Homo sapiens: one gene and its partners. The protein of the gene in region 4 purifies or fractionates together with the protein of the main gene of each other region. This does not show direct contact. Each region holds a gene or a part of one and is shown on either strand. Other genes may lie near its edges.

Evidence for each region.
Region 1: the proteins of SLC2A9 (region 4) and IPO11 purify together in Homo sapiens (affinity purification with mass spectrometry; 2 studies listed by BioGRID and IntAct, with this or other methods). This does not show direct contact.
Region 2: the proteins of SLC2A9 (region 4) and ARFGEF1 purify together in Homo sapiens (affinity purification with mass spectrometry; 2 studies listed by BioGRID and IntAct, with this or other methods). This does not show direct contact.
Region 3: the proteins of SLC2A9 (region 4) and ECPAS purify together in Homo sapiens (affinity purification with mass spectrometry; 2 studies listed by BioGRID and IntAct, with this or other methods). This does not show direct contact.

Annotation. Positions count from the first base shown.
Region 1 is NC_000005.10:62,478,372-62,486,042, reverse strand, and holds part of IPO11 (importin-11), read right to left. Parts: intron 2,943-7,671; coding exon 2,750-2,942; intron 2,034-2,749; coding exon 1,881-2,033; intron 625-1,880; coding exon 581-624; intron 1-580. UniProt on the Homo sapiens protein: Functions in nuclear protein import as nuclear transport receptor. Serves as receptor for nuclear localization signals (NLS) in cargo substrates.
Region 2 is NC_000008.11:67,263,240-67,270,910, reverse strand, and holds part of ARFGEF1 (brefeldin A-inhibited guanine nucleotide-exchange protein 1), read left to right. Parts: intron 1-3,468; coding exon 3,469-3,568; intron 3,569-3,680; coding exon 3,681-3,820; intron 3,821-3,926; coding exon 3,927-4,035; intron 4,036-4,703; coding exon 4,704-4,905; intron 4,906-7,671. UniProt on the Homo sapiens protein: Promotes guanine-nucleotide exchange on ARF1 and ARF3. Promotes the activation of ARF1/ARF3 through replacement of GDP with GTP. Involved in vesicular trafficking.
Region 3 is NC_000009.12:111,369,025-111,376,695, reverse strand, and holds part of ECPAS (proteasome adapter and scaffold protein ECM29), read left to right. Parts: intron 1-154; coding exon 155-220; intron 221-1,493; coding exon 1,494-1,583; intron 1,584-2,657; coding exon 2,658-2,724; intron 2,725-3,289; coding exon 3,290-3,381; intron 3,382-3,459; coding exon 3,460-3,526; intron 3,527-4,075; coding exon 4,076-4,267; intron 4,268-4,866; coding exon 4,867-5,075; intron 5,076-5,930; coding exon 5,931-5,974; intron 5,975-6,068; coding exon 6,069-6,261; intron 6,262-7,522; coding exon 7,523-7,661; intron 7,662-7,671. UniProt on the Homo sapiens protein: Adapter/scaffolding protein that binds to the 26S proteasome, motor proteins and other compartment specific proteins. May couple the proteasome to different compartments including endosome, endoplasmic reticulum and centrosome.
Region 4 is NC_000004.12:9,885,173-9,892,843, forward strand, and holds part of SLC2A9 (solute carrier family 2, facilitated glucose transporter member 9), read right to left. Parts: intron 5,540-7,671; coding exon 5,438-5,539; intron 2,471-5,437; coding exon 2,395-2,470; intron 1,731-2,394; coding exon of another isoform or gene 1,588-1,730; exon of another isoform or gene 1-1,587. UniProt on the Homo sapiens protein: High-capacity urate transporter, which may play a role in the urate reabsorption by proximal tubules. May have a residual high-affinity, low-capacity glucose and fructose transporter activity. Transports urate at rates 45- to 60-fold faster than glucose.

The DNA of each region.
Region 1 (7,671 bases), on a different chromosome or scaffold from region 4:
ACCAGTGCACTCCAGCCTGGGCAACAGAGTGAGATTCTGTCTCAAAAAAAAAAAAAAAGAAAAAGAAAAAAGAAAAAAAACTCAGATTAAACGTCATAATTTAATATGAATATAGTTCTTAGTTTCTTATAAACAGTTTCTTATCTGTCTGACTTAATGTTGGGAATCTTTAATTTTTTTTTTTTTTTTTTTAAGAGACGGGTTTTGCTTTGTAATCCAGGCTAGAACGCAGTGGCATCATCATGGCACACGGCAGCCTCAACCTCCTGGGCTCAAACAATCCTCCTGCCTCAGATTCCTGAAGAGTTGGGACTACAGGTATGCGCCACCACTCTGGTCTAATTTTTTTTTCCTTTTTTTACTTTTTGCAGAGACAGGGTCTCACTATGTTTACCAGGCCGGTCTTGAATTTCTGGCCTCAAGCGATCCTCCCACCTTGGCTTCCCAAAGTGCTAGGATTAAAGTGTGAGCCACCATGCCCAGCAAATGTCTGGAATCTTTAATAGAGTGTCATTCTCTACTAAGAGCTTTAGAAAGATTAAGCTTTCCCCTATCAATTTTTCTTGCAATTAATACTTACCCTCAAACTATATTTCCAAGAATCTCCTCCTGTTTCTTCCACTGCTGCAATTAAAAATATGTAATAATGACATTTTCAACATCTTGGTTTAGAAAACAAAGATTTTAATAACATCAGTATAATATTTTTGTGAACTCTTTTAAACATAACATTAAGAGCAAAGCCTTGGGAACACAGGCCTTACACAGATTTTGTTACTATATGCTACAGATCACAGTTGTGTATCTCACAGTCGTCTATTAAGTGCTTACTATATCCATAAGCATTCTCATTTTCGATAAAAATTCTTTATGGAAAAAAGCTCAAAGTAGTTGTCATTTCCAGGGTATCTGCTATCACCTGATCCAATATCACTAGAATTCTGAGAATCATTTCATTTCAATACAGTAATCATGTTTCACTAGGTACAATGATTACTCACACTCTCCATAAATTTCTTGAATTTAAAGAAAAATACTTCAGGGCTCTTAAAAATTTAGGGACTCAACACTTTATGTTACAATGTTGTATGTACTATATAAAGAAAGCAAATTGAAAAAAGATGTTTCAAAAAAAGCAAAAAAAAAAACAAGAAAAGACATGTTGTACAGTACAATCCTGTATTAAAACTAAAATTACTTTTAAAAACCAAAAGCATGGCGAAGATAAGTATTACAAAAACTTTTGGGCACTCTTAAAATATTAGGAAACGTGTAACTACACAAGGGTACACAACCAAAGAGAAAAGGGAGGCTAAAATCTAGCCTATGTCCCACCATAGCTTAAGTAATTCACATACAAGTAAGTACTTTATTAGACACATGATTCCTTGATTTTCTATAGCAAGGGTCCCAACAGACTTATTCTACTTATCTATCTAGTACTAAAATTCAAACAGATATAAAGATGTCCTGTCCAAAAAAAAAAAAAAAACTATTCATCAAAAACCTCCAAATTTCTTTGCAAGAATTTCTACAAATAAAAAATAACATGGAATGAATCACAAAATAGAAACTGACAGGGTAAGAGAGAGTTAATTTTATATTTTTGTTTGAAACTACATGATATATTTGTAAAGGAATCCAAAAACTAAAAAGGTCTTTTCCTGGACAAAATTCTACAACATATTTGCATAAGTCATTCATTTTCTGCTTCTCAATTTGTTCTAATGGATAACAACGAAAGAGTAAGTTAATTTTAAAACACCAAGATTTCCAGATCAAAAGTGCTGTATGAAAATACAATATTATACCTATCACTCAAACAGATATTTATAGAAAGGGGAGAAAAGTCATTCTAACACTAAAAAATTAATTCTTACTAAAGCCTTCTGGGTCTTCTTCCCACATTGTCAGTTCTTCTTCAGTTAATAGGAAATAATGAGAGACTAATCTTCTACATATCTCTGTCAAAGTAGGATATGTGAAGAATGCCATCTTAATCTTATGGGCTTCAAGAGTTTCAGGGCTGCTATCTAGAAAAATGAAATTTCCAAGTTAATTGTATAGCCAAACATTGTAGCTACATTGGATTATGTAACTTAAATAAATAAAAAATACACTCTCAGGGAAGAAGATACACTTGTGTATAAATTTTCATTTTTATTATAAACAAATCTCAAAGATACTCTTTCCTTACAACACACTCACATCAATCTTGCCTCTGGCATTACAGCTTATATATTACCATGCAATACCATCACGGCATACTGAAATAACTTCCTCATAATGTAGAGGGTGTGGGGGGTGTGTGCATGTGTTTCTCTCTCCCCCACCACCAAGACTTCTTCATTCATCTTGGCACACACGCATATGAATGAATTCCAAATAATACAACAATTTAACCTGTCTAGAAACAATCACACTTTATATAAAGTCAGAGAAAGCTTTTATTTGTTCAAATGAATACACCCTACAATATGAGCTGCAGTGATGACTATAGTACCTAATTCTTAAAGTCCCTAAGCTTCAACCAATTTGTGCTACAAAAAATGGCTTATTAAATGCACTATGTTGTTTTTAAAAGCTAGTATAAACATACTAAAGCCTATAATCCTTATATCTTTTTCATGTCCCAGCAACAATTTATTTTTCAGACTAAAATGACATTTTTTAAAAAGTTTGTAATTATAGCAATTATATCACACTTAAGATTAAAATAATTCTTTTAAACTGCCAATAAAGGAATTACCTTCAAAATTTTTGGATGGCTTATAAGCATAATTTTTGACAATCATCTTAATAAGATTCATACATTGGACAATGAATCGTTCAAATGTAACGCCTTCACCAACTTCTGTAAAAACATAGCTTACAGAAAATTCCAGTGATCTCTGAATTAGAGGAGTAAATGAAAAAGGATGCTGATCCAAGAAGTCCAAAAGCTGTAGAAAAATAAATAAATAAAAATTAAAATGTATTTTCCCCAAATTCATATTGGAATATAATCACTCCAATTATAACTTTACTAATAATCATTTAGCAGTTTGAACCTTAGTGTGGAGTCTATGTTCACTCAGTTTTACATTATCATAACTCTTCTTGAGGCACATCATATAATGAGGATTATGTTAGATTATATCTGATAATAAGAACTTTCTATTATTTTCAATACAGAAACCAAAACAGACTCAATTCATACTTAATTTTATAACAATGGGTGAATATGATACAAAACGCTTAAATATACAATAGACCTTTAAAAGTAATAGACTAAGGTAAAGAATTTAAATATTATCTTCCCTTTCCCATATGAATTATATTTTAATGTTATCAAATAGCTAAGGAGGGAGATGTCTTCTTTATAGAAGAATTTCAGCTAATAAATGCAAAAGGAATAACAGAATTAGAATGCCATCATTGTGTAACTCCTGATCAAATAATGGATCTAGGCAAATGATGATCAACAGCTGTTAAAATAAGAGAAAAGCTGCTGAGGAAATTTGATAGATCACTCATCAATCTTAGCCACAGAAAAAGAAACCAATGAGAACAAAGACACAATGTACCAGAGTCTCTGGGACACATTTAAAGCAGTGTGTAGAGGGAAATTTATAGCACTAAATGTCCACAAGAGAAAGCAGGAAAGATCTAAAATCAACACCCTTACATTACAATTAAAAGAACTAGAGAAGGAAGAGCAAACACATTCCAAAGCTAGCAGAAGGCAAGAAGTAACTAAGATCAGAGCAGAACTGAAGGAGACAGAGACACAAAAAAACCCTTCAAAAAATCAATGAATCCAGGAGCTGGTTTTTTGAAAAGATCAACAAAAGTGACAGACCACTAGCAAGACTAATAAAGAAGAAAAGAGAAGAATCAAACAGACACAATAAAAAATGATAAGGAGTATCACCACCAATCCCACAGAAATACAAACCAACATCAGAGAACACTGTAAACACTTCTAAGCATATAAACTAGAAAATCTACAAGAAATGGATAAATTCCTGGACACATACACCCTCCCAAGACTAAACCAGTTAGAAGCTGAATCTCTGAAGAGACCAGTAACAGGCTCTGAAATTGAGGCAATAATCAATAGCTTACCAATCAAAAAAAGTCCCAGACCAAACAGATTCACAGCCGAATTCTATCAGAGGTACAAAGAGGAGCTGGTACCATTCCTTCTGAAACTATTCCAATCAATAGAAAAAGAGGGAATCCTCCCTAAATCCTTTTATGAGGCCAGCATCATCCTGATACCAAAGCCTCGCAGAGATACAACAAAAAAAGAGACCAATATCCCTGATGAACAATCAGGGATTTAGACCAATATCCCTGATGAACATCAATGCGAAAATCCTCAATAAAATACTGGCAAACAAACCGAATCCAGAAGCACATCAAAAAGCTTATCTGCCATGATCAAGTGGGCTTCATTCCTGGGATGCAAGGCTGGTTCAACATACGCAAATCAATGAACGTAATCCATCACATAAACAGACCCAAAGATAAAAACCACATGATTATCTCAATAGATGCAGAAAAGGCCTTCGACAAAATTCAACAGCCCTTCATCCTAAAAACTCTCAATAAACTAGGTATTGATGGGACATATCTCAAAATAAAAAGTGCTATTTATGACAAACTCACAACCAATATCATACTGAATGGGCAAAAACTGGAAGCATTCCCTTTGAAAACTGGCACAAGACAGGGATACCCTCTCTCACCACTCCTATTCAACATAGTGTTGGAAGTTCCGGCCAGGGCAATCAGGCAAGAGAAAGAAATAAATGGTATTCAATTAGGAAAAGAGGAAGTCGGCCAGGCGCGGTGGCTCATGCCTGTAATCCCAGCACTTTGGGAGGCCAAGGCGGGTGGATCACAAGATCAGGAGATCGAGACCATCCTGGCTAACACGGTGAAACCCTGTCTCTACTAAAAATACAAAAAAAAATTAGCCGGGCATGGTGGCGGGTGCCTGTAGTCCCAGCTACTCAGGAGGCTGAGGCAGGAGAATGGTGTGAACCCAGGAAGCAGAGCTTGCAGTGACCCAAGATCACGCCACTGCACTCCAACCTGGGCGACAGAGCAAGACTCTGTCTCCAAAAAAAAAAAAAAAAAAAAAAAAAATGAAAGAGGAAGTCAAATTGTCCCTGTTTGCAGATGACATGATTGTACATTTAGAAAACCCCATCATCTCAGCCCAAAATCTCCTTAAGCTGATAAGCAACTTCAGCAAAGTCTCAGAATACAAAATTAATGTGCAAAAATCACAAGCATTCCTATACATCAGTAATAGACAAACAGCCAAATCATAAGTGAACTCCCATTCACAACTGCTACAAAGAGAATAAAATACCTAGGAATCCAACTTACAAGGCATGTGAAGGACTTCTTCAAGAAGAACTACAAACCACTGCTCAACAAAATAAGAGGACACAAACAAATAGAAGAACATTCCATGCTCGTGGATAGGAAGAATCAATATCGTGAAAATGGCCATACTGTCCAAGGTAATTGATAGATTCAATGCCATCTCCATCAAGCTACCAATGACTTTCTTCACAGAATTGGAAAAAAACTACTTTAAAGTTCATTTGGAACCAAAAAAAAGCCCGCATTGCCGAGACAGTCCTAAGCCAAAAGAACAAAGCTGGAGGCATCATGCTACCTGACTTCAAACTATACTACAAGGCTACAGTAACCAAAACAGCATGGTACTGGTACGAAAACAGAGATATAGACCAACGGAACAGAATAGGGCTCTCAGAAATAACACCACACATCTACAACCATCTGATCTTTGACAAACCTGACAAAAACAAGAAATGGCGAAAGGATTCCTATTGAATAAATGGTGCTGGGAAAACTAGCTAGCCATATGTAGAAAGCTGAAACTGGATCCCTTCCTTACACCTTATACAAAAATTAATTCAAGATGGATTAAAGACTTAAATGTTAGACCTAAAACCATAAAAACCCTAGAAGAAAACCTAGGCAGTACCATTCAGGACATAGGTATGGGCAAAGACTTCATGACTAAAACACTAAAAGCAATGGCAACAAAAGCCAAAATTGACAAATGGGAGCTAATTAAACTAAAGAGCTTCTGTACAGCAAAAGAAAACTACCATGAGAGTGAATAGGCAACCTACAGAATGGGAGAAAATTTTTGCAATCTACTCATCTGACAAAGGGCTAATATCCAGAATCTACAAAGAAGTTAAACAAAATCACAAGAAAAAATCAAACAACCCTATCAAAAAGTGGGCAAAGGACATGAACAGACGCTTCTCAAAAGAAGACATTTATGCAGCCAGCAGACACATGAAAAAATGCTCATCATCACTGGCTATCAGAGAGATGCAAATCAAAACCACAATGAGATACCATCTCACACCAGTTAGAATGGCGACCATTAAAAAGTCAGGAAACAACAGGTGCTGGAGAGGATGTGGAGAAATAGGAATGCTTTTACACTGTTGGTGGGACTGTAAACTGGTTCAACCATTGTGGAAGACAGTGTGGCGATTCCTCAAGGATCTAGAACTAGAAATACCATTTGACCCAGCCATCCCATTACTGGTTATATACCCAAAGGATTATAAATCATGCTACTATAAAGACACAGGCACACGTATGTTTATTGTGGCGCTATTCACAATAGCAAAGACTTGGAACCAACCCAAATGTCCATCAACGATAGACTGGATTAAGAAAATGTGGCACATATACACCATGCAATACTATGCAGCCATAAAAAAGGATGAGTTCACGTCCTTTTGTAGGGACATGGATGAAGCTGGAAACCATCATTCTGAGCATACTATCGCAAGGACGGAAAACCAAACACCGCACATTCTCACTCATAGGTGGGAATCGAACAATGAGAACACTTGGACACATGGTGGGGAACATCACACACCGGGGCCTGCCGTGGGGTGGTGGAATGGGGGAGGGATAGCATTAGGAGAAATACCTAATGCAAATAACAAGTTAATTGGTGCAGCCAATCAACATGGCACAATTATACATATGTAACAAATCTGCACATTGTGCACATGTACCCTAGAACTTAAAGTATAATTTAAAAAAGAGAAAAAGAGACAACCAGACATTGTGTGTCACATTGCATGTGTGCACGTCATACAATACAGAACAATACTTATAATGTATTCTTGCCATCCCTGCCCTATCCCCCACAAAAAAGCCTGAAAGTGACTAAACCTCTACATCTAACTACCAACTTATAAGAAATATGGGAGGAGAAGTGTGAAGACTAAAGAACATGTTAACAAAAAGCATGTGGCGACACAAGCAATCAAATTCAAAACATGAAAAAGTACAGAAAATTACCTGTTACCTCAAGAAATAACAGCAAGGAAATAACTTTGGAACAGATGGAAAGGGAGCTGATGCAAGTTGAATCCTGATTCAAACAAACTAGAAAAATTCATGACACAATCAGAGAAATCTAAAATCTGACTAGATATTTAAATGATATTAAGAAGCTATCAGTATTTTTTAAATATAAAATTGTGTTAAGATCCTATTTAAAAAAAATAAAACAGGCCAGGTGTGGTGGCTCACGCCTGTAATCCCAGCACTTTGGGAGGTGGCAGTGGGTGGATCACTTGAGCCCAGAAGTTCGAGACCAGCCTGGGC
Region 2 (7,671 bases), on a different chromosome or scaffold from region 4:
CTGGGATTATAGGCATGTGCCACCACGCCTGGCTAATTTTGTATTTTTAGTAGAGACAGGGTTTCTCCATGTTGGTCAGGTTGGTCTCAAACTCCCGACCTCAGGTGATCTGTCCGCGTCCGCCTCCCAAAGTGCTGGGAGCATAGGTGTGAGCCACTGCGCCCAGCTTTATGTGGTTTTTTTTTTTTTTTTTTTTAAGGTGTACCAGTTTCTGATTTTTTGTTTTCATCTTCAAATAAAACTTAAAAATAGTACTTTATGTTTTACCAATTTAATGAATGCTTTTTTCAATTTGTTATTTGTTGAAATGTTGTTTTGGTTGTGATGTTGTATGGTTTTGAAATACTCATTTTTATGTTGTCAGTTTTTACCTTCATATTATGTTTGATATACAGGTTATATTTTAATTTTTGTTAATTTTATATTTAATCCTAACTCAAGACTCATAATTCACTAGCTTGTTAGAAAGGATAAATTATTTTTCCAGAATTTCGAAATGGCTAAAATAGTCATATTATCCTTTAATGTTAATGTTCTGTAATAGCTATCAAGATTGATTTAGAGCATTGTTATGAGAATGAAACAGAATTAGGCCTTGGTATTTTAAGTGAAAAGCTTTTTAATTTGGGCCATATTTTTGGACAGGAAACCATTTTTGGTGCCTATATGATGTATGATGTCAAGTTTTAAGAGTTTGCCATATGTCTGTTAAGATAATACAAGGCGTTTAACTAGGAAGAGTTGCCGTTTTTAGATAGTTTTTCCCCATTATCTGTAGGAACTATAAATAAAAGACAGTTAAAAAAACTTTTAGAACTTTTGCTTTTGTAAAAAACCAGAAGTCTTTCATCTGATGATGAGACATTTAAGTTGGCATTAGAAAATTTTGTAATACTTTATGTAACCAATTACAGATTTTTTTGGACACTGAGATTCTGCTTCTGTAGGTACTGTTTACCGACAGTAAAATATAAATTCTTAGATCTAGATATCAAAAATTATTTAAGTTGAGATTACTATTTTTGCACAGCAAATTCAACTTTGCAAAAATGAATTTGAAAGGAAAAACTTTAAGAAATTTCTTGTCAATTTGTAGATGTCAGATTCTCATTACAAAATTATTATAATATTCTAATTTTTAAAAATTAGGTTTATTTCACTCCTTATTGTCCCTCAGGGGGCGATAATGAGGGTAAAATGAGATAAATATAGATATACTTTCAAAAATGTTATACACACTCAAATTATAAATGAGTTGAGCACCGGGCACAGTGGCTCACACCTGTAATCCCAGCACTTTGGGAGGCCGAGGCGGGTGGATCACCTGAGGTCAGGAGTTCGAGACTAGCCTGACCAACATGGAGAAACCCCATCTCTACTAAAAATACAAAATTAGCCGGGTGTGGTGGTGCATGCCTGTAATCCCAGCTACTTGGGAGCAGAGGCAGGACAATCGCTTGAACCTGGGAGGCCGAGGTTGCAGTGAGCTAAGATCGCGCCATTGCACTCCAGCCTGGTCAACAAGAGCGAAACTCCATCTCAAAAAAAAAAAAAAAAAAAGCTGAACGTGGAGAAAGCCCAGCTATGAAAACCTAAATTTGCAAAACAAAATTAAGATTGTTTTTACATGAAGATTCATTTTATGAGAATATTCACTTCAGAGTTTCTGTGATGTGATTTTTTCATGGGTCTTAAATTATATATCTATTCCAGAAGATACAGTTTATGTACAACTTTTCAGGAGAACATATGTGAAGACAGCATACTTAAGATATAGCTGTTGTTCCACATACATACATTATAGGTCCTCGATAAATTATTAAAAGGTTGATTTTTTTAGAGCCCCTATTATGATAGGCATAATATCTTATATTACAGCAATAGACTTTTGCTTATTAGTGCAATTTGATAAACCATTGATAGTAGCTAAAATTTTTTCTTCCCTCTCTCTTCCAGTCTATATTATTTATTTTGTCAATCAGAGGATCCCAAAAGTTTTTGATTCACAAGTCTGACTTTTCATGAAAGTTGCACTTTGGCCAGAGGAATACCTCCAGTTCTATGTTCTATTTATTAAGCAGGCAGGGCCAAACAACTTAATGGATATTTGTCTTCACAGCCTACTATGTATTTCAAAGACAATAGTATGCATAAAGTAAAAGAAAAATAATGTTTTTATTTTATTCTTTACCGCAATTACTTACCACTGGGATGCGTGTGCCTATTAGAAACTGCACACAGCTTCTTAGATCTTGGAATTGAATACTGTCCCCCTCATTCCTGTACTTCATTGATTTTCATTCAGTACTTGGTTTTTTATCATAGCAACTACCAAAACCCAGCTTTGCGGAGATAATTATGTCATTGAAGGGAATGTAGTGTGATTTATTTGAAACCATGAGCAATCTTTTGAGGTATCCAACAGATGTATCTCCCTCTGAATTTTGCCTCAGAATTTTTTCAGGGCACCCTCATGAGTTTGCTACAGCATTCTGGGGTACTTTGATGCAGTTTTTGGGAATTGTGGCCATGTTGCCATAAGTATTTATTGAACACCTACTATGTGCCCTGCAATATGGACGTGATCTTTATCAAGAAAGACCTGGTCATTACTGTCTTCAAGCTTACAGTCTATAGGAGATACTGATATTAAACAAGTAAATAGAAATATGCTGAGTTTTGTGAAAGAAAATCACATTACAGGGGTACCTAATCCAGTTAGGGGGAGATACTATAAATGTGATTTTCTGGGTTCATAATGCATATGTTTCATAAATGTTAATATGTTGGTTGTTTCAGTCATTCCTTCTTAAAGTCACTTTTATAGAATACATTTAAATCTGAAAATTCTTATCTGTTAAATTGAAATTTATCTCATTAGGTTGATTAACTCACTGCTTGATTATTTGGTGTAAAGAGTAGTGAGAAATAGTTCATATGTAGTTTTCAAACAGTAGAGATTTTCACTTTTGTGAGTAATTAGAAAAATAAAACCGTATGAGACTTAGATTGTTTTTATTGTGTTGATTAGAGTATCAGTTACATTTAAATCTACGAACAGTTAGGCCTCTCAGTACTAGAACGTCTCTGAAAAATATAACTGATGAACAGAAGTATAAATTACGCTTTTGGAGGGGGATTAAAAAAGCGTAAGTTATATTCTGTAAAAATGTTAAAGAAATTATCACCTAGAGGAACTCTAAATCTTTGCATATTTCTTTTGTAGCAGCTGTGTTGAGAACAAAACACATCAATGTGAATTGCAGTACTGATAACTAGAAGGGCAAGTTTAAGTCACTTACCCAAGATATTTTAGTCCTGAGGATTCAGAGATGGAACTCAAAAGGAGTTGAACTCCATAAGAGCCTGGGTCCTAATACCTGCTCTATAGCTCTGGGATGTTTAAAAAGTGATCACACATATGAATTCTAAACAATATTTTAAACAGAAGTTTTCTCCTAATCACAGGTGTTCTTTAAAGAAATTTTCTTATACATTTTGGAAACTTCTACCAGCTCATTTGATCACAAATGGATGGTTATTCAGACACTGACGAGGATTTGTGCAGGTATTTTAAATTATCCTTTTTATTATCTCTTTCTTATTATTAGATATTTAAAAGGCCAAATGTACTCATATCCTAGATGTACTTTGTTGAAATTAATGTTATATTGTTACAGATGCTCAGAGTGTAGTGGATATTTATGTAAACTATGACTGTGACTTAAATGCAGCCAATATATTTGAAAGACTAGTAAATGATCTATCAAAAATTGCTCAAGGAAGGGGCAGTCAAGAACTTGGTATGAGTAATGTTCAGGTAAGAACTATAAAAACATTTTCAAATTTAAACTTTACCAGGAAAGAGTCATGTGTTTTCCTTAAAAGACCTTTAAAAAAAATTTTGTTTTTGAATTACTTTGTAGGAATTGAGCCTGAGGAAAAAAGGTTTAGAATGCTTAGTGTCGATTTTGAAGTGTATGGTTGAATGGAGTAAGGATCAGTATGTGAATCCCAACTCCCAGACAACTCTTGGTAAGGTGATATTTTGAGCTGTAATTCTTTGTCATTTTAAGTGAATAATACTTTGGAGGATAGTTGCAGCTGCTGTTAAACCAATTTCATGACATATTTATTCATTTAACTGATGAGGAAACATTCTCTGTGAGTTAAATGTCTAGCTTTAAAATTGTGAGATTTTTAACTTAGTTATCCAAACTATTTTTTTCTAAATCTTCTTAGAAATATTTTGATTATGTAAAATGAAGCATATTTATGCAACTTTCTTGTATTATAATTATAGAGGAAACATATAAAAGGCAGTATGTTTTAAGAAGGTTGAATTGTTCATCTGTGTTTGATGTTTACCCTCACTCAGAGAAAAACTCATAGCTGCAGGGCTACACTGGTATTATCGAAAACAATTCCTCATGAGGAGTGAGCTGAGAGCAGAAATCCAGTGGATACTCAGCACTGCAACTGCAAAAAGAACTCCTCCTAATGGTGCAGACTATACACGTACAAATTACAGTGTGTTTTAATATCAAAGTATGTTGTTTACTATGTTACCTAATAGTTATTTTGTATTAAATAGATATCTAAGCAACATTGAAACGCCTTGCCTTATTCAAGAATTTGTTTGCCCTTACACTTTTTTTTTTCTTTGATAGAATAATGTACTCTATCAATTTTTCTTCTTTCAGGTCAGGAAAAACCCTCAGAGCAAGAGATGAGTGAAATCAAACACCCTGAGACAATAAACAGATACGGAAGTTTAAATTCCCTGGAGTCAACATCATCATCAGGAATAGGCAGCTACAGTACACAGATGTCTGGCACTGATAATCCAGAACAATTTGAGGTCCTAAAGCAACAAAAAGAAATAATAGAACAAGGGATAGATTTGTAAGTGTCATAGCTTAAGGAGAAATGTTATTGAATATCTCTCTGCCAGTATAGTGCCACCCCTGCCGTGGGTTTATCACCTTATAATGAGTAAAATGGAGGATAGTTCTCATGGATCTAATTCACGAGGCTCCTATTCAGCCCCCCTTGTTCATTGCAGTCTAGCCCAACTAGATTCCTGTAATGCCCAACCACTCTTGTCATATAAATTAATTTGTCACCATATTATAAGTGCTGTTGATGGGTATCATCTGTGCAATTTTGCACTGTTTAGCTCATGACATCCCCCCATTATATTTTCTAATCATGTGACAACTCAAAACATTTAAAATATGAAACTTCTAATAGCTATCAGTACTCCTTTATAGGTCTTACATTTTTTCCAGCTGGCTTACAAATGTACTATTCTTGTTATTGATTTCATTTTTATATGTTGATGAGGTGATCACCTCTCTTCCAGCCTGGCTAGTGTACCGGATCCTAATCTTGTGAAGTCAGTTTTCCCACTAAGCTTTGTGATACCTGCCTGCTCCTGGACTATTTCCTTTGTGAATGTCACCATGCTGCCTTCCTTTCTCTTGTTGCCCATCTCTTTTTTTCAAAGAGATGCCATAAGGAAAAATGAAATTGTTTGCCGTCTCCATGAATCTAACTATTATAAACTTAAAAATTCCCCTGTGTGCTTACTTGGTTTGCTACTTCTGTAAAGCATTTCTTCCTGATACTTAAGCAGTGCCTTTTAGTGAATGTTCAGGTGTCTTTTTTCTCCAGTGTTAATATGAAAAACAGTTCAACAAAAATGTACACATATTCTATTTTAAAATTACAAAATCTTACCAAATTGCCTCAGGAAATAGCTGTCACTACTGCATTAATTCTAATTGTTCAGTCAATATTTATTAAAGTCTCATCTTTCCAGATATTATGCAAGATCCTGGGGAAACTAGATACATGGAAAAGCCCTTCCTTCTGAGAGGCTCTTGGTCTAGTGTGTGTAAACAAATATGCATATTGAAATTCTGCTGGTCACCCAGTAAACACATATTTGGTACTTGGGACTATTGCCAAGCACCATGAAGGCATTGGTCCTTGTATTCAAGATTGCATTCTAAACATGAGCAATTTTTAAAAATAGTACTGTGTAAATGTTTATAAAAGAGTGTCGTACAGAGTAAGTACTGCCAAGGTACTTATTTTGAAGTACTTGAGAAATGAGAAGGAGTAGTCAGAGGGCTTCGAAGTGGAAGTCTCCCAGTCCTTCTCTCAGCAGCTAGACTTGCTTTCTACTTAATACAGCCATTGATGAGAATGCTTTCATGGAACTGTATTCCTAGTATACTTGTCTACAACTGTTTCATGACACCAGTCTATCCTGTTTCTCTCCTACCTTTTTGACTATGCCGTCTCAGTCTTGTGGGCTGTTTTTTCTTTCTTCCTGCGTGCATCTTAGCATTGCCAGCGTTCTGTTCCTCAGCCCTTTTCCAACATCAGCCCCTTAGTTCTCCTACCCAAAACAAAAGACAAATAGAGAAGCCTGTTATTTTTGTATTTCTTATTTATGGTAGTAACCCCAGCATGCTACTAAATTTATAAGCTAAAATCCTGGGAGTTAGCTTAGATTTTCCCCTCAAAGGATTAGATTCTCGAATCTAATCTGTCACTAAGACTTGTTGATTATACTTCCTAATATCCCTGCAATCTGTACTCTTTTCTCGATCTCCCACCACTATTCTTGCAAATCAAATCATGATTATTTATTTCCTCAACTAGTATAATCTTTCAATTGGCTTACCTTTTTCTTTGGTTTTGTTCATTCTTCAGTCTTTTCCCATGCTTAACTAGAGTAACCTTTCTTGAATGAAAGTCTATTTTTTCCCTCTCTTAGAGAATAAAACCAAAGCTGCTTTGAAGGTATGATAATACCTTCATGATTTGGATCTGCTGGACTCTAAGCTTCATTTCCTGCCACTTTTCTGTCTCACCTCACTTTCCAACAATGCAGAACTATTTATTATATAATACTGTCTTGTGCTTTTGTGTTTTAGTATGGCTTCTTCCTCTCTTGCATGTTTTTTCTTATTGTTTATAAAAGATATAATTGTTCTTCAAAATAGTTCCAGAGTCACCTTTCCCAGGAAATATATTATGACCATCTAAGTTAGTTACTTCTACTGTGTTATTTTCTTACCTTGTGAATACATCTATTTGTCACAGTTTTAGTATTATAATTCTTTAAAATTGTGTTTCTTCCATTACAGTGAGAGCTTCTAGGGGTAGGGGGATTATGTTTAGCTTAGTGAAAAGTGTTTCATTTTATGAATGTTAAGTGGTTATGGTTGGATGAGAACTTGACAAGGGAACCTTTAGGAAGAGCATCCCAGACTAAGAGAATGGCATGTGCAGCAGCAGAGGAAAGGGAGGACATCTGAGCACTTGTTCAGCATGGCAGGCTAGAGTGGAGGGGGAATAACAGGAGGTAAGATTAGAGCATTGGGTTGGATCTAAATTACAGAAGGCCTTATTCTCCATGTAAAGGACTTTTTGTTGTCTTGTTCCTCTTGGCGCTAGCGTGCTAGTGAAGGACTTTAAGCAGAGGAGTAGCATCATCAGATTTCTGTTTTGTAATAGGACTTTGCTGGCAGCCTGAAGGGTGCATTAGAATATGGGCAACATGAGCTAGAGGGAGACCATTTAAGAACTCTTGCAATAGCCCAAATGACAGGTGTTGGAGCACCAAAGTAACAAAAGTAGGAAGTAAATGATCTG
Region 3 (7,671 bases), on a different chromosome or scaffold from region 4:
ATTAGAGTTAGACTTGATGTTTGCCTTTGTTATAGCTACGGATTATTTTTTTTTAAAGTTCTTTAGCTTGGAAGTGAAAGTCTTTTATGGGTGTTTGTGCGGATTATTCCTAATTAATTGAATGTGCCGGGTGACTTTAATTTCTCTTCTTTAGGCTGCGATGGATAGTGCTCGGCTTAGTGCTGCCAAATCTTCTCCAATGATGGAAACAATCAACATGGTGAGTGTCTTAAATAATAATGAGAGGGTTTGTTTGCTTACCTGAAAGTGTAATTCTTCAAAGTCTTCAGGCTATGTTAAATGAAGCAGAGACTTATGGGATGAGTCAAGCAGCTGTTGTGACTCCAGTTTTTTCTTAGTATATTTCTCTTTTCTTCTCTGTTACTAAGTGGAATAAATAATTCCCCAAATACCAGAAACAGTTGGTCCAAATTTGTATTACAAGAGACAACAACATATCAAGAGCTCTCTATAAATTTACATCTGTAGTCTTTTGATCTGCCTATTTAGAAAGGTTCAGAGTTGTGCCTGTGCCTAATAGTTATCTTTGGGAGGAACTAGGAAAGTTATAAGCTGTGGAGGTATTTAATGAAGTAGGTAACATAAAGGTATGTGAAGAGATTGGGCAATGTCGATATGTTGTTTTAGTCATAGGAAGGCATTTGCAGTAAAGGGCTGCTTGGCATTCTGAGGTTCTGATTTCTAAACTTCCTGGAGTCTTGGTAAAGTTACTCTGTTGTGCATTCCCTGTAATGGTTAGTTAGCTATGATTGTGTTTACTGGAAATTAGTTTGCTAAGCAGATCTGTACCTTTAGCAGGACTCTGAAGGTATAGATCCAACCCCTAAAAAAACTGAAGTGTACAAAAAACTATGTTAAACTGGTGAAGAGAAGTAGCTATTTTTTAGTGCCTGCTGGGGGAGTATTACCAAAATTTGGTCTAAGAATGTTATGTCTTAGTTGGATTATTGGGGGGAAATAAAAATTTAAAGAAATAGGAATAGTTAGTGAATACCATTTAGTTATATTCATTAGTAATAGAAAACATGTTAATTGCATTTTCAAAAATAAAGGCCAGCAATTTATAGGAAAAGTCATCTAAGAAGTTGACTCATTAGAGGGGGTTTGGTAGGGTAGGCCCACTGTAGAAGATCAATATTTAGTTTAGGTTTTTTATACTAAACATGGATTGATAAAGAGGAAGTAGGCCCAGAAAGATTCTTCATTCTTGAGTAATCATTATTTTTCTTTTTTAGCAAATTGATGTTTTTCATTTTTTTGTTTGTTTTTAGTGTTGAATCACTGATGAATAATTTTTCTGTTTGTAGTACAATAGTGGTTTTAATATTGAAATCAGAGCAGAAGCAAGCAGTGATTTTTCAACTTCATGTCAAATCCAGTTGGTACACGTTTGACAAGGGCAGTTTTTAATTGAAGATGTGGTCCTGACTTATTTGCCAAGGCTTACCTTTATATTTGTCCTTTTTCAAAAGTGCCTGCAATACCTTGATGTGTCAGTGCTGGGCGAGCTAGTTCCTAGGTTGTGTGAACTGATCAGAAGTGGTGTAGGTCTTGGAACTAAGGTAAGTGTACTTTCCACAAGAGGAAATGTGCATCTTCATTAGTTCTGGCCATAAGGATATAACAGCCATCATGTTTGAAATTCATGTTTTACCACAAAATCTAATATTATACACTAACCATTTTATTTCTGTGGTTGCACTGATAACTGAAAACATGTAACTGGTTCAAGAAATAAAACATCTAACTGTTCCAGTAAGTATTAACTTATTTAGTGGAATCATTTCTGTTCTCTGGTTGCCGTGTACATACCCTCTGGGTTGTCATTCATTAGCAGTTCATGGAAATGCACATCCAGTTATTAGGGCATGGATTGTTTTAGGTGGCAATTGCATTTTTCACAGAGGGGTCAGCAGTGTTTGAATAGAAAAATGTCCTAGTTTTCAAGATCTTTGAAGGATCAGACACCCCCCTACCACCCTTTTAACAACAAATTAATAACTCACATTTTTTCTTATGACAAAATTAACACTTGCTGGTATTTTAAAATTTTAGCATTTATAGATTAGGAGAAAGTTAAAATAAAAATTGTCCAGAATTTTGCCATACAGAGATAACTGCTGTTAATATTTTGAAGTGTTTCCTTCCAGTCTTTTCTGCACATGTATCTTCTGCAGTGTCCTCTTCTAATGGCCGTATGATACTCCACTGTATGGATGTAACATCATTTATTTTACTCCATCAAGGAACATCTGATTTGTTTTCAGTTTTTGAAAAAAATAGTAAAGCACTGTGATGAGTGTCTTCAGGCACACCTGAAGATATTTGGTTAAATTTCTGGAAATGGAAATGTTAGCACAGTGATGGACAAGATGACATATTTTGCTTTTCCAGAAGATTGTACCAGTTTTCTTTCTTTTTCACAATGTCTGAGATCACCCATCTTTCTCTTGGAGGTTTAAAAAAAATCGCTGCATTACTAGTTTAAGAGTTTGCCTTTTTCTATATTGAGTCCTGGAGGGGGTATTAGGCTTCATGTATTTTATATGTTTAAATTTTTGGCACCTAAGCCAATGGTTTGGTAGGTAGAACATTGTGACCATCAGATTTAGACCTTTGCTTTTGTAACCCTGTAGGGTGGCTGTGCCAGTGTCATTGTGTCATTAACTACTCAGTGTCCTCAGGACCTAACACCTTACTCAGGTGAGTTTGTCAAGGGATGTGTGGTGATATTTTTGCACAGCCCTGTCTTGTGTGACAGAGTTTTAAAAAGGAAAAATACTTATCATTCAGACCTGCTTGTGATGCTGTGTGCCTTTTCTCCCCTCAGTCCCCTGACTCCTTCATTTCTTTGTCTGCAGGAGGTGCAGAGTTTATCAAGTTTAGCAGCTTTTCACTGTTCATAAACATTTGATTATTCCTTAGTGGTATAAGGAGGTAAAAGTATCCTCTTTTCCACAGGACTTACCATTGATAGCTGATTTTACATCAGCATTTTTCTCTTCTTAGATTGGCTTCTAGACTGGACTAGTGTTCTTTATATACCTCGTTCTTATTTTGCATCTTTTTCCACGATATTCTAGTTTAATTTTAACTTTATATCATGTAAAAGGAAGCAAATGGATATATAAATATAACATCCAGAAATCTAAACTACTGTGGAGTAAATCAGATGTTAATTACAGGGTTAGGTTTGTTTGGGTTCTGGGAACAGAGTGGAACATTTGGTCAACCAAGTATCAGATTTTTTTCTCTTTATTTCTGGTAGGTAAACTTATGAGTGCTTTGCTGAGTGGCCTGACAGATCGGAACAGTGTGATTCAGAAATCTTGTGCATTTGCTATGGGCCATTTAGTTCGGGTGAGTTAAATTTCTTGCTTAGTTAAATAAAACTCTTTGACAGTTATAAAGAAATACTTAGGATTGTTTCTTTTTCAGACCTCACGGGATAGCAGCACTGAAAAACTCCTGCAGAAGCTCAATGGGTGGTATATGGAGAAAGAAGGTACCTTTCTTTTTCTATTTTATGTCATTTTAAATTTAGATGTTAACAGCCCAGTAAAACAGTACAAATTAGGTCTTACCCTCCATGATTTTATGTGATTTGCTAGAAACATTTGTTTCTTTTCTTTTCTTTTTTTTTGAGATGGTGTCTGGCTTTGTCGCTGAGGTTGGAGTGCAGTGGTGCTATCTCAGCTCACTGCAACCTCAGCCTCCTGGGCTCAAGCGATTCTTGTGTCTCAGCCTCCTGAGTAGCTGGAACTACAGGCACGTGCCACCACGCCTGGTTAATTTTTGTATTTTTTGTATAGGTGGGGTTTCGCCATGTTGCCCAGGCTGGTCTTAAACTCCCGAGCTCAAGCTATCTGCTCACCTTGGCCTCTCAAAGTGCTGGGATTACAGGTGTAAGCCACCACAACCCAGCCTGCTAGAAACATTTCTAATTGATTTTACCTGTTTGTTTTGCTATTATATGAGTTGAACAATAGCCTGTTTAGATCAGTTACCCTTAAAAACAATAAATATCGTAAAGATTTTGGTTTCTCCTTTTCAGAACCTATCTACAAGACCTCTTGTGCTTTGACTATTCATGCTATTGGACGATACAGCCCTGATGTATTAAAGAATCATGCAAAAGAAGTCCTGCCTCTGGCATTTTTAGGCATGCATGAAATTGCTGATGAGGAGAAATCCGAAAAAGAAGAATGTAATTTATGGACCGAAGTGTGGCAGGAAAACGTACCTGGTTAGTAGTGTGGCCTGAGTTAAACCTGCTTCTTAGGAATCACAGCTAGAATTTTTTACTTGCATTCGTTATTCATAAACTCCTCTGAAGTTACTTTCCCAGGACCTTAATATGCATCCCATTTAGTTTTAAACCCATCCAAATTGCTCATCCCATTTAGTTTTGAACCCATCCAAATTGCTGAGTTCTCAAGGTTGGCACTCAGGATTTTTGTCTTTACTCATTCATCACTGCCCACATGAGAGAATATAAACCCTGTGAGCAAGGAGAGCTTTACATTTTTAATTAAGAGTGTGATTTTATGTGGCCTTAGAGTATTTTAGAGTAGTTTTCTAAATGTGTTTTTCACCTTGTCGCATATTAATTGATGATGCCCATTTGTGTGATACGTTCCTGTGGGCACCCAAGTTCGTAAAGTTCTACTATTGTGAGAATAAGTCACAACACCAACACACTTTCTCTCCCTTTGAGAGAGTGGTGTGTTTTAACAGTTGAGAGTCACTGCTTTTAGACTGTTGGTCACTGACTTTTTTTCAGGTTTAGAAAAATCAGTTAATTTTTCTTGTCACTTAAAAGTTGTTTTAATTTTGCTTTCCTAGGATCCTTTGGTGGCATTCGATTATACCTGCAGGAGTTAATTACTATTACCCAGAAGGCTTTGCAGTCTCAGTCCTGGAAAATGAAAGCCCAGGGTGCAATTGCCATGGCATCAATTGCAAAACAGACTAGCTCTCTAGTACCTCCATATCTCGGAATGATACTGACCGCATTGCTGCAAGGCCTGGCTGGAAGAACGTGGGCAGGAAAGGTAAAGGAACCATTCATACCCAGTTAAAGGGATTCTGACTTCATCTTTCATTTTGCATAATAGTAACGATCTGGTTTTGTGTAACTTTTCCAATGGATTATTTTTGTGAACTAGATTTCCTAGACAGTGGAAGCTTTGGGTAAACCTTGCCTGATTAACTGTGGTATTTCCTCTCAAACTGCAACCCGTGTGGCCTTGCATAATGGACAGTAATGCTGGAGATAGATACATTTTCCATATTCAGCCTTCCAAGTTACGTCTTAAACCAACTTGTCAGCATTTTGTACCTGTTGACCTCATGAACAGATCAGGATTGGGCATAGAAAGATCAGGATTGGGCATATGTGAAATAGAGTAGCAAGGTAGCCTGCCTCTAAACCTGGGGCTGAAGATGCCCATCTCTGGGACCTATGAATTAGTAACAGTTATTTTTTTACACAAGAGCTTTAGTAGGATTCTTAACAGTGAACACTCAGTGGGGAACATGAGATTGTGGTAACCTAATGATCTTTATGTTGTAAAGGTCAATAGTGGCCCATGCAGGAATGAAGTAGTACCGGACTGGGAGTCAGACATCATTCCAATTCTGTGGTTGACACTGTTTTCTGTGAGACCTGGGTCGAATCAGTTCTTTAGGCTTCTATGAAATGGAGGTGAAGATAATTATCCTACATCCATGGTTTGGAGTAAAACTTGGTGGATGTGCTTAAAATTATGCATTAAAGATAAGGTGACTGTTGTTAATTTTTGTTGTCATAGTTATCAAAAATTCCTAAGGTAATTGTAATCATGGTTTAGACAGTGTAAATGACATGTTTGGGCTTAATAGTATTTCCTCATCTTTCAACCCCTTAGGAGGAGCTATTGAAAGCCATTGCCTGTGTGGTGACAGCTTGCAGGTAAATGTTCTTTCAATGAAGATGCCATTTCTTAAACTGGACCCGAAAACTGCAGCCTTTATTAACTTCTGATGCTTTTGTATGGACCCTGTAGTGCAGAGCTGGAAAAGTCTGTGCCCAATCAACCCAGCACAAATGAAATTCTTCAAGCTGTTCTGAAGGAATGTAGCAAAGAGAATGTCAAATACAAGATTGTAGCAATCAGCTGTGCAGCTGATATCTTGAAGGCCACCAAAGAGGACAGATTCCAGGAGTTCTCTAACATTGTCATACCTCTCATCAAGAAGGTAATACCACCTGTATCCTCAGTTCTGGTTTATACTTTAAAAAGAAAAAGTTAAAAAATTGTTTTCCCCTATGTCCTGATTATTAGGATTAGTTTAGCTGCAAGTAGCAGAGAAATTCCAAAATACGGCCTTAAACAAGATAGTCAATGCTATGTTTCTCACAAAGCGTTGGGAGCATCACAAAGTGTTCAGGTATTCCGTCTCTTTACAGCTCTGAACTCTGCCATTTCTAGGGTGTGGTCATCATCCTCATGGTCCACAGTGTGTTTGTGTTCTAGGCAGGAATGCAGAGGAGATGAAGCAAGGATGAAGGATACAGTGGGCATGCCATGTCTCTCTTGAGGAGAGTTCCTGGGCACCGCTAGATGGCACTTTGACTTATAGCCATCCTGTTGGTCAGTACTTAGCCACACCTGGCAGCAGACTGAGTCTTCATTCTGGGTGTCCATTTGCCCTCCATGGGAGAAGGGGAGAGTGGATTTGGTAGTGAATGAACAGTTTATGTCATAATAAGCTTTGCCTTGGCTAATAAGCTAAGCCACCCCAGCCATCCTAGAGTAAAGGCAAGAAGCTCAGTGTGCCATGTGAATTGCCTCTGCCATATAGTGGAGGATTTGGGTCAAAAAAAGACTCAAGTTTCATGTGGAAAATGGAATACTCATTTTTAAAAGTTGGGCACTGGTCCCCCCCCCAAAAAAAAGGGTGTGGTTTCCCTGTTTATTTGTGAAACATGAAATATTTTAAGTAACATTCTTATTTCTTATTGCTCCTAAATTGCAGTTGTTTTCTTTCAGTAATAAGGCTATTTAAATAATTTCCATTACAAACATAGTGATAGCATATGGATTTGGGAGACTTGTGTTTTAAGTTGATTACATCACTAGCAAGCTGGACCAGTTGCTTCTCTTAGCCTCTGTTTCTCTATCAAGAAAGAGTTTGGATTTAGATCATTACTGAGTTTCTTCCATCTTTAAAATCTGATTCTAATGCAAGTCTTTTCATGTTATGCTCAAAAGACTACATATGCAGTATTTTTTAGCTTTTGTTTACAGATGCCTGTAAAGTATTGCCTAAATTTATTAGAGATACAGTATTCTGGTTATAAATTCTTGTTGTAAATAGGGAAACTTATGGTAGAGAATTTATCATTTAACTCTTGGTTAATATCTCCTGCCTTGGTTGGTACCCTGATAGCTTTAATAGTATACCTGTAACTTTGAAGAAGAAAATATTACATTTTCTTTTCTTTGATATATCCTAGAACTCACTTGAAAGCAGTGGGGTCCGGACAACCAAAAATGAAGAGGAGAATGAAAAGGAAAAGGAGCTCCAGCTGGAATATCTGCTGGGTGCCTTTGAAAGCCTGGGCAAAGCCTGGCCGCGAAACGCGGAGACCCAACGTAAGCACCA
Region 4 (7,671 bases):
TAAAATAAAAAAGCAACATGTATCCCATGAAAAAAAATATGGTTCTATTTTATCTTCCTCCTGCCTACCCCTGCTCTCCTCTCCCTCCAGCTTGGCATACAACAGGTGCTCAATAAAGGCTTGAGAAATTGATAAGAATGGAATTCAACCTTATATTTGTTCTTTCTCTGAAAAGAATCTTGGTATTAGCTTGACTAATCCTTTTGCTCCATGCAATTGGCTAGTGCCACCTTCATATTTTTCTGATATCATTAAGCCCCAGCTGCCTCTTCCCTGGAGCTCAGGGATATTGCAGGAAAAGGGGTCTGCTCTCTCCACTTCTTCTCTCCTCCAAGGTTTGTTTTGAAAAACCCTGCTGCCAGGGCAGGCTCCCGTGTTACGCTGCTCACAAAAGCACACATCTTCCCTGCCAGCCTTTGCTCAGTTATTTTATTCCCTCTCTAACAAGTACTTGTGGAGCCTTACTATGTCTTCAGCACAGTTCTAGGTTATCAGGATAAGATTGTGAACCACACACCAGGTCCTTTCATGGAGCTTATTTTCTAGCCTGGAGGAGACACACATTAAAGACAGACTGCAGCACACAGGCCGCATGCAGCCCACTGCCTGCTTTTGTAAATAAAGTTTTACTGGGACACAACCATGCAGTCCATTCATTTACTCGTTATCTATGGCTGTGTCCACACTACCATGGCAGAGGTGAGTAGTTGTGATAGAGAATGCATGGTCTGTGAAATAAAAGTATTTACACCTGGCCCTTTGCAGGAAAAATCTTCCCATGTCTGCATTAAACAAATGAGTACGCAGGAAACCAACATGCCTGTGAACAATGCTATGATGGGTGATGAGATAGAGGGTAGGTGTGCATGTGTGTGTGAGTGTATATAGTAAATGTGTGTGTGCTGGTTTTAGAATAAGTGGCCAGGAGAGGCCTCACTGAGCAGCTGACATCTCAGAGGGGACTTCCACACCAGAGGCAAGCCCCTCTGGGAGCAGAGACTGCTCCTGTCTGGTTTGCTCACGCATGTCCCCAGGCTAGCATAGGGCCGTAGGCTGGACACCTCCAGAGCACTGATGTGAAGATGTGGATGTGAGGTTGTGATGCAGATGCCCTGGAAGACTAAACACATTTACTCCTCGCGTCCACTGTAAACTACAACATGTGCTGTGTGTTCATCCTCTAATTCGCTGCCCTGCCTGGGAGGTGCTTGCTTTCTTTTTCTTGCAGCCGTTCTGACCACCCTCATAGCACTGTGTGTGTGTGTGTGTGTGTGTGTGTGTGTGTGTGTGTGTGTGTGTGTGCTGTGTGCATGTATGTGCACCTGATGCCCTCCCCAACCATTCCATGGCCCACCTTGCCACCTTGCCATCTTATTATAATATCCCGATGTCCTGAATGGACACTTTCCATCCACCATGAATGCAATAGAACCTGGAATGTAATGGCTTACGAGAATCAGCAACACAAAGGGAGAAACAGAAGTTCAGTTCCCTTTGTTCTGATAGAAACTTACTGTTTGCATCCACCAAGAAACACAACCAAAGAACAGCCATGAATATCATCCCATGAGAGAGCACATGGCTGTGTCAGACCCTGCCCTGAGCCCCCCTTCTCAGTCTGACCTTGGACTCTGCTGGAGGTCCCTGCTGGACGTGGACACAGGGCCAGGGAATGGTAGGGTCCTCAGTTGCATTGCATCCTTGTCGTTGTACAGATGGGGAAACTGAGGCTAACAAAGAGAAGAAGTCTCTCCTACTGACCCATGGCTAGGAAACAGCAGGGCTAGAAGTGAGTCCCAGGTAAACTGAGGCTGGGATACTCCAGCTGCACACTCACACAGCTACCATGTAAGCTGGTGGTTGGGGCCTGGGCCTGGCAGTCAGGCCACTCCACCTACTCGCTCATGCAAGTCACCTTCCATCTCTGTCTTCTTTGGCACTGTCCTGAGCCTTAAATGAGCTCACACAGGTCAAGTTCTTAGCCAAGTATAACACAAAATCAATGAACAATATGTCTTAGACATGATTATTGCCACATCTTTCACCATAGACGGTAACTGCTTAGGCACAGACTGTGACTTGGTTGTCTTTGATTCAACACAAACCAGTGTCACCTCTGGATCAGAGCCCTCCCGCGTATGAACTGCTCTTGCTGTGTGGTGGGAAATTATCTCCCACTCATCTTCAGGTGAGTCCACTTTCACCTTCTGTGGGATAGACTGCAGACAGTCGGCTACATTTAAATTGGGCCAAAAGAAAGGCAGCAGACACACATCCCCAGTCAGGCTTTGCTTCTTCTGGGCTCTGGGTTCCCCATCTGTATGAGGAGAGCCCCCCAGCTTGGTGATGCCATGAGTCCCTGGGCGGGGCAGTGGGGAGGGTGGGGTGCCTTACCTGGCCCACTGCAGAAAGAGGCGATGATGGCCAGAATGCCCACGATACTCAGGTAGGGGACCCAGGGGGCGTGGTCCTGGGAGAGAACAGGGAGTGGTCAGGTGAGGAGGTGATGGTGTGACCGGAGGACCTGAGTTCCCACCCCAGCTCCTCCTCCATCCATCTGTGTGACCTTGGACAGGTCACTTGATGTCCCCAAGCCCCAGCTTCAGCATCTATAACATGGGAACAATGATAACCCTTCGGTCACTCCATCTGCTTATTTTATAGCCATGATGAAATCAGATGAAGCCTGTGATGAGTTTGACATAGTCCTGGCATACAGGAAGTGGTAAATAAATCAATAACTCACATTGATTGAGGGCTTAGTTGGCATCAGGCAATATGAGCAATTTTCACAGCTTTATCACATTTATAAAAGTTCATCATTCTCAGCAAACTGACACAAGAACCGAAAACCAAACCCCACATGTCTCACTCATAAGTGGGAGTTGAACAATGAGAACACATGGACACAGGGAGGGGAACATCACATGCTGGGGCCTGTTTTGGGGGGTGGGGGGCTGGAGGAGGGATAGCATTAGGAGAAACACCTAATGTAGATGATGGGTTGATGGGTGCAGCCAACCACCATGGCACATGTATACCTATGTAACAAACCTGCACGTTCTGCACATGTATCCCAGAACTTAAAGTATATATATACATATATATATATATATGTATATATATGAATGTTTCCTCATATACATTTTAAAGGCTTCTATATTTTGCTTAAAAGAAGTTATCTTAGTTCTGATATTATTACATAAAGGACCTTATTTGTACCCCTGCCATCTTGCAAGGTGTGAGATGCGTTAATTCATTTCATGGAATATGTCTGGAGAAGCTGTCACTCATCCGGGGGGTGGGTGGCTTGGTGCTGGTTGGGATTGCTCCTGCTCTAGCAGACTGGACAGCTGAGCATTAGAACACAGTGTCACCAGTTCTGAATCTGTGGGGGTGCCAGGGCTGCCCCAGGAGAGGCCACCTGACTTGAAGGGAAGGTAAGAGCCTGCGTTCATCTCTGTAGGCTGAGCCAGAGTCAGCCCAGTGGGAAAGGAAAGGAAAGAGGTTCCAGTAGGGGGTTCAGCATACACAAGGGCATAGAATCCTAAGAGGGCACCATCGGCGGGGGGGTAAGCTGCAAACAGTCTGGAGTGGAGGGCGAGGGGTACAGAGGGCAGACAGAGGAATGGGGAACTCCCTCCTTCCCCTTGTTCTATGTCCAAATCCATTAGCTTTAGGGGTTGAGAGGAGCTTCATGGACTCTTGTACACTGTATGGCTTGCTTCTGTACCAAGTCACTCACTCACTCACTAATTCAGCTGATTGATCCGAGCTGCCCCTGGGTGCCAGGCACTGGGATGGGAGGTGGAAATGCAGATATGGTTCATGCCAGGCCCTTGCCCTACACAACTCACTCACTGTCTATTTGGAGAGAGACATGTGCCAACAGTGAAAGTCAATGGTATGTGATAAGTGATCTCACAGGGTTCCCCCTTGGGGCTTATGGGAACACAGGAGAGAGCACCTCACCCAGACTTGGAAGCAAGGGGAGGCTTCCTGCAGGAAGAGGTGTCCAGGAATGTCCAAGGCCTCCTGAGTCCAGAGCAAGGAGAAGCTAGCCAAGCACAGAAGAGCCCTAGGAGAGGAAACTGCCAGGTTCCTTGAGGAGCTGCCGGGGGCAGGGTGTGGGGCACTGGAGGAGACAAGGGTGGCCAAGCCAAGAACAGCTCTGAAACCTTGTGAAATGAGGCTTAGATGGGGTTTGTGGGCTTCAGGCTTTCCTTTTAAACTTCGGACACAAGTTTCAGAAAGACAATGGCCTGGAACATCGCCTAACTGGCTTCCTGAGAACTTTGAAGGACTGTAAAGATGCTGGAGCTTGGGACAGCTTGGGCCTGGCTGTCAGGAAGGAACTGCATCTGCCAGCACATTGTCCCTGAAGGCAATGCTTCCACCTCCTGCCGGTCAGCGTGCTTGCCAGCCCCACCTCTTCAAAGGGCACCCATCAGCCACCACCATGCTAACAGTGCCTTCTTCTAGAAACATTTGGGCCACTAAGACATTTGACAGGTGATCAAAATGTGCACCTATCAATTTCCAGATGCATTTTTGAAAAATGCAAAGATTAATCAATTGCTGCAACCTTGCTTCACGCTTCCCATGGCACCAAGATGAGTTGGAGGTACTGAGGCAGTGTTCAGTTAATGCAAGCTGCCCTGAGCCATGCAGGGGGCAGAAGCCCAGGATCCGGGGATCTAATTGCCACCTTTTGGTGGTGTAACCTTGGGAAGCTTATTTATTTATATTTATCCCTCAGTTTCCTTATCTCCATAAAACAAAAAAATACTGATGTTGTAAGGATGAAGTACATCGCCACCCCTCCTCCTTCATGGACATCCACTGAGTGCTTGTTCCAAGTGCTTTCAGTGCATTTTCTCATTTCATCCCACAACACCCCTGGATGAAGGGACGACTGTTTCATTTTAGAGATGAGGCCCGGAGAGGAGCTGACTTGCTAAAGTTTCATTACAAGTAAGGAAAAGCCAGGGTCCACACAGGCTGTCTGGCTCCAGAGCCACTGTTCCTAAAATTGTGACAACTAGGGAAGTGGCTGATATGCAGCACCTGGCACTCATGCTGGGAGGTGACAGCTGGAAGGAGCACCTTAAGGTTGTCTAGTGCAAGCTCTTCTATTCCATAGATGGGTGAACTGAGGCTCAGAGATGGAAAGTGTCTTGCCCAAGATCACACGGCTCATCAGTGAGAGTGACAGGACCAGAAGTCAGGTCTCTCATCTCCCAGTCCAAGGACCCCTCACCAAACCCTCTTCACTGAGACCCTCAGCAGCTCCAGAGATGAGATGTCCCCGGGGAGAGCTTTATCACAAGTGTTTTCTGTAGAAGTATGAACCCACAAATCAAAGGCCCCAAAACGATGAAGCCAGAAGTCAGCTCCATGCTTATCTCCCTCAAATGTGACAAGAACATCGTCTCACCTGCAGGGTCAGCGTGATGGTGAGGGTCCCAAAGAAGAGGCCCATGAGCCCAAAGCCACCAATGAGGAGGGGTCTCCGTCCCAGGTGCTCAATGACCAAACCCTAGTCCAGGGTAAAAGAGAGAGAGAGAGCTATTATTCCATTTCTAACCACAACAGGGGAATGTGGCACTGGGAACCGGCAATGGCATCATGATTAAAAACCGGCTTTGACCCTGAGACAGTTGGGCCACCTTCTTTATGGCCACAGCCCTGAAGCAATGCTCTTTATGAGAAAGGAAAAAGCGAGGGAGAGAAAGTCACAATTCTTGAGCACCTACAGCATTAATAACGAGCACTCTCCTCCGAATCTTCCTTGCTATGGTGGACTCCTCCAACAGGGAGTCTGGGAGAAGGAACTGGATGGATATGGTCACCACAGCCCTTCTCCTCCTTCAGAGGCAACCTGCATGGAAGGTGACTCCTCTGTGTCTCCATGTTGTGGGTTTCATAGGGGTAGGCATCCACAGCGGGGCACAGGGGTGGGAGTAGGCAGAGAAGCCCATGTCGTTTTCCAGTCTGCCTGTGTCTGGGGAAGTCAATTTCATTGTGGGATGTGATGTGGGGAGTCCCTGGGGAAGTCCCTAAAGCTGTGTCCTCGAAGCCAGCTTCCCTCGGCCTAGGACTGTCACTGACCTCCATCTGGCTGGCCCCTGTGCCCCTTGTCCACTTGGTCAGGAAACAGCTCCTCAACTGCCAATGACTGAAAGAGTAATTGTAGCCGAATGTCAGAGACAGGAAAACCTGGGTTTATATTCCGGCTTTACTATTTTCCAGATGCACGAACTTTGGCATGTCACTTCACTTCCCAAAGCCCCAGGGCCTTTATCTGTGACAAGAGAATCAAAATATCCTTCCACAAGAGTGTCTGGAGTGGAAGGGTGTGTTAAATAAGAGACTGCACTCAACACACAGGTTAGGTACTCGGATTATGTGAGGTATCCTCCTCTCATGCTCCATATCACAAAAAGAGAACACGGAGGGTCAGAGAGGTGAGATAACAGCAGACATCACAGAGCAAGTAGGTGAGAGAGGGCCAGAAATTGAGCCCAGAATGAATCAGAATCCATGGCTTTTCTCAATGAGGCAATCAGGCGAGGCTTCCTGGAGGAGGCAGGAGCAGACAGAGATGTGGAGAGCTTGTCAGGCAGAGGGATTAGTGGGGGAAAAGGTTTTGGGGCTGGATGGTCCCCATCACGACAGTCATTTGGCTTGGACAAGGGGAAGCAGTGACGCTGCTGAGGGCCATGAAGCCAGAGCACACATGGCTCCTGCCTGCCAGCTTCAGGTGACAGTGCGAAGGTCACAGCACTGAGACGAACAGTTGCAATCCTTCCCCAAAGCCTCAGGGTTTCTCCACAATGGAACCCAGCTGCAGGGACCCCAGTGCCCTCTACCTGTTCCTCTTTCCTCATACCCTGCTCCTTAGAGGGAGGCAGGTGAGAAGCCGTCTAGGCAATGGGCGTTCTCCCCCAAGCTTAGCATGGGCTGTTGTTCTGCTGGGCAGAGCCGGCACTGAGGGGTGAGTGACAGCTGCCTGTCCGAAGGGCATAGCCCTGTGGGTCAGCTGAGCACCCCGGCCATGTAGTGCTGCCTGGGGCCATGGACCTCTCAGTCACCTGGGCATGAATGTTGAGGGGAACGGAGGGTGCTGGCCCCGAAAGTCAGAGGCCTGGGAGGAAAATGTGCCTGGCTGATGACCACATGTCTCTAAAAGCATCCAAGACTTCTGGTCAGAAATGCCTTTCTCCTGGGTGCTTAGGGAAGAAGGGCAGACTCAAGCCTTTAAACTTGGCCTCCTAGAAACCTGGCCCAGTGGAACAGAGCACAGGTGACATCCAGGGGCACAAAAGCCTGAAGATGGGCCATCTGAGCTGAATTCCTGGCTTTGCCACTTAGCCTTCTTTGCACCCAGGACAGGTTATTCAGCTTTTCCAAGTCTCAGTTTCCCCACCTGGAAAATGAGAATGATAATACCATTTTTGCAGGGTAGCTGTGAGATAAAGCGAAAGAACTCACAATGCCTGAAATAGACTCATGAACAAAAGAGGTTGCCAATAAATGGCAGGAAATATATTATTCATTTTAACTAAGGAGTGCCCTGGGGATCTGGTCCCAACTCTTACCCGTAGCTGGCTGTGTGGCCTTGAACAAGTTAATTAACCCTTCCATGTCTTAATTTCTCATCTTTTCTGA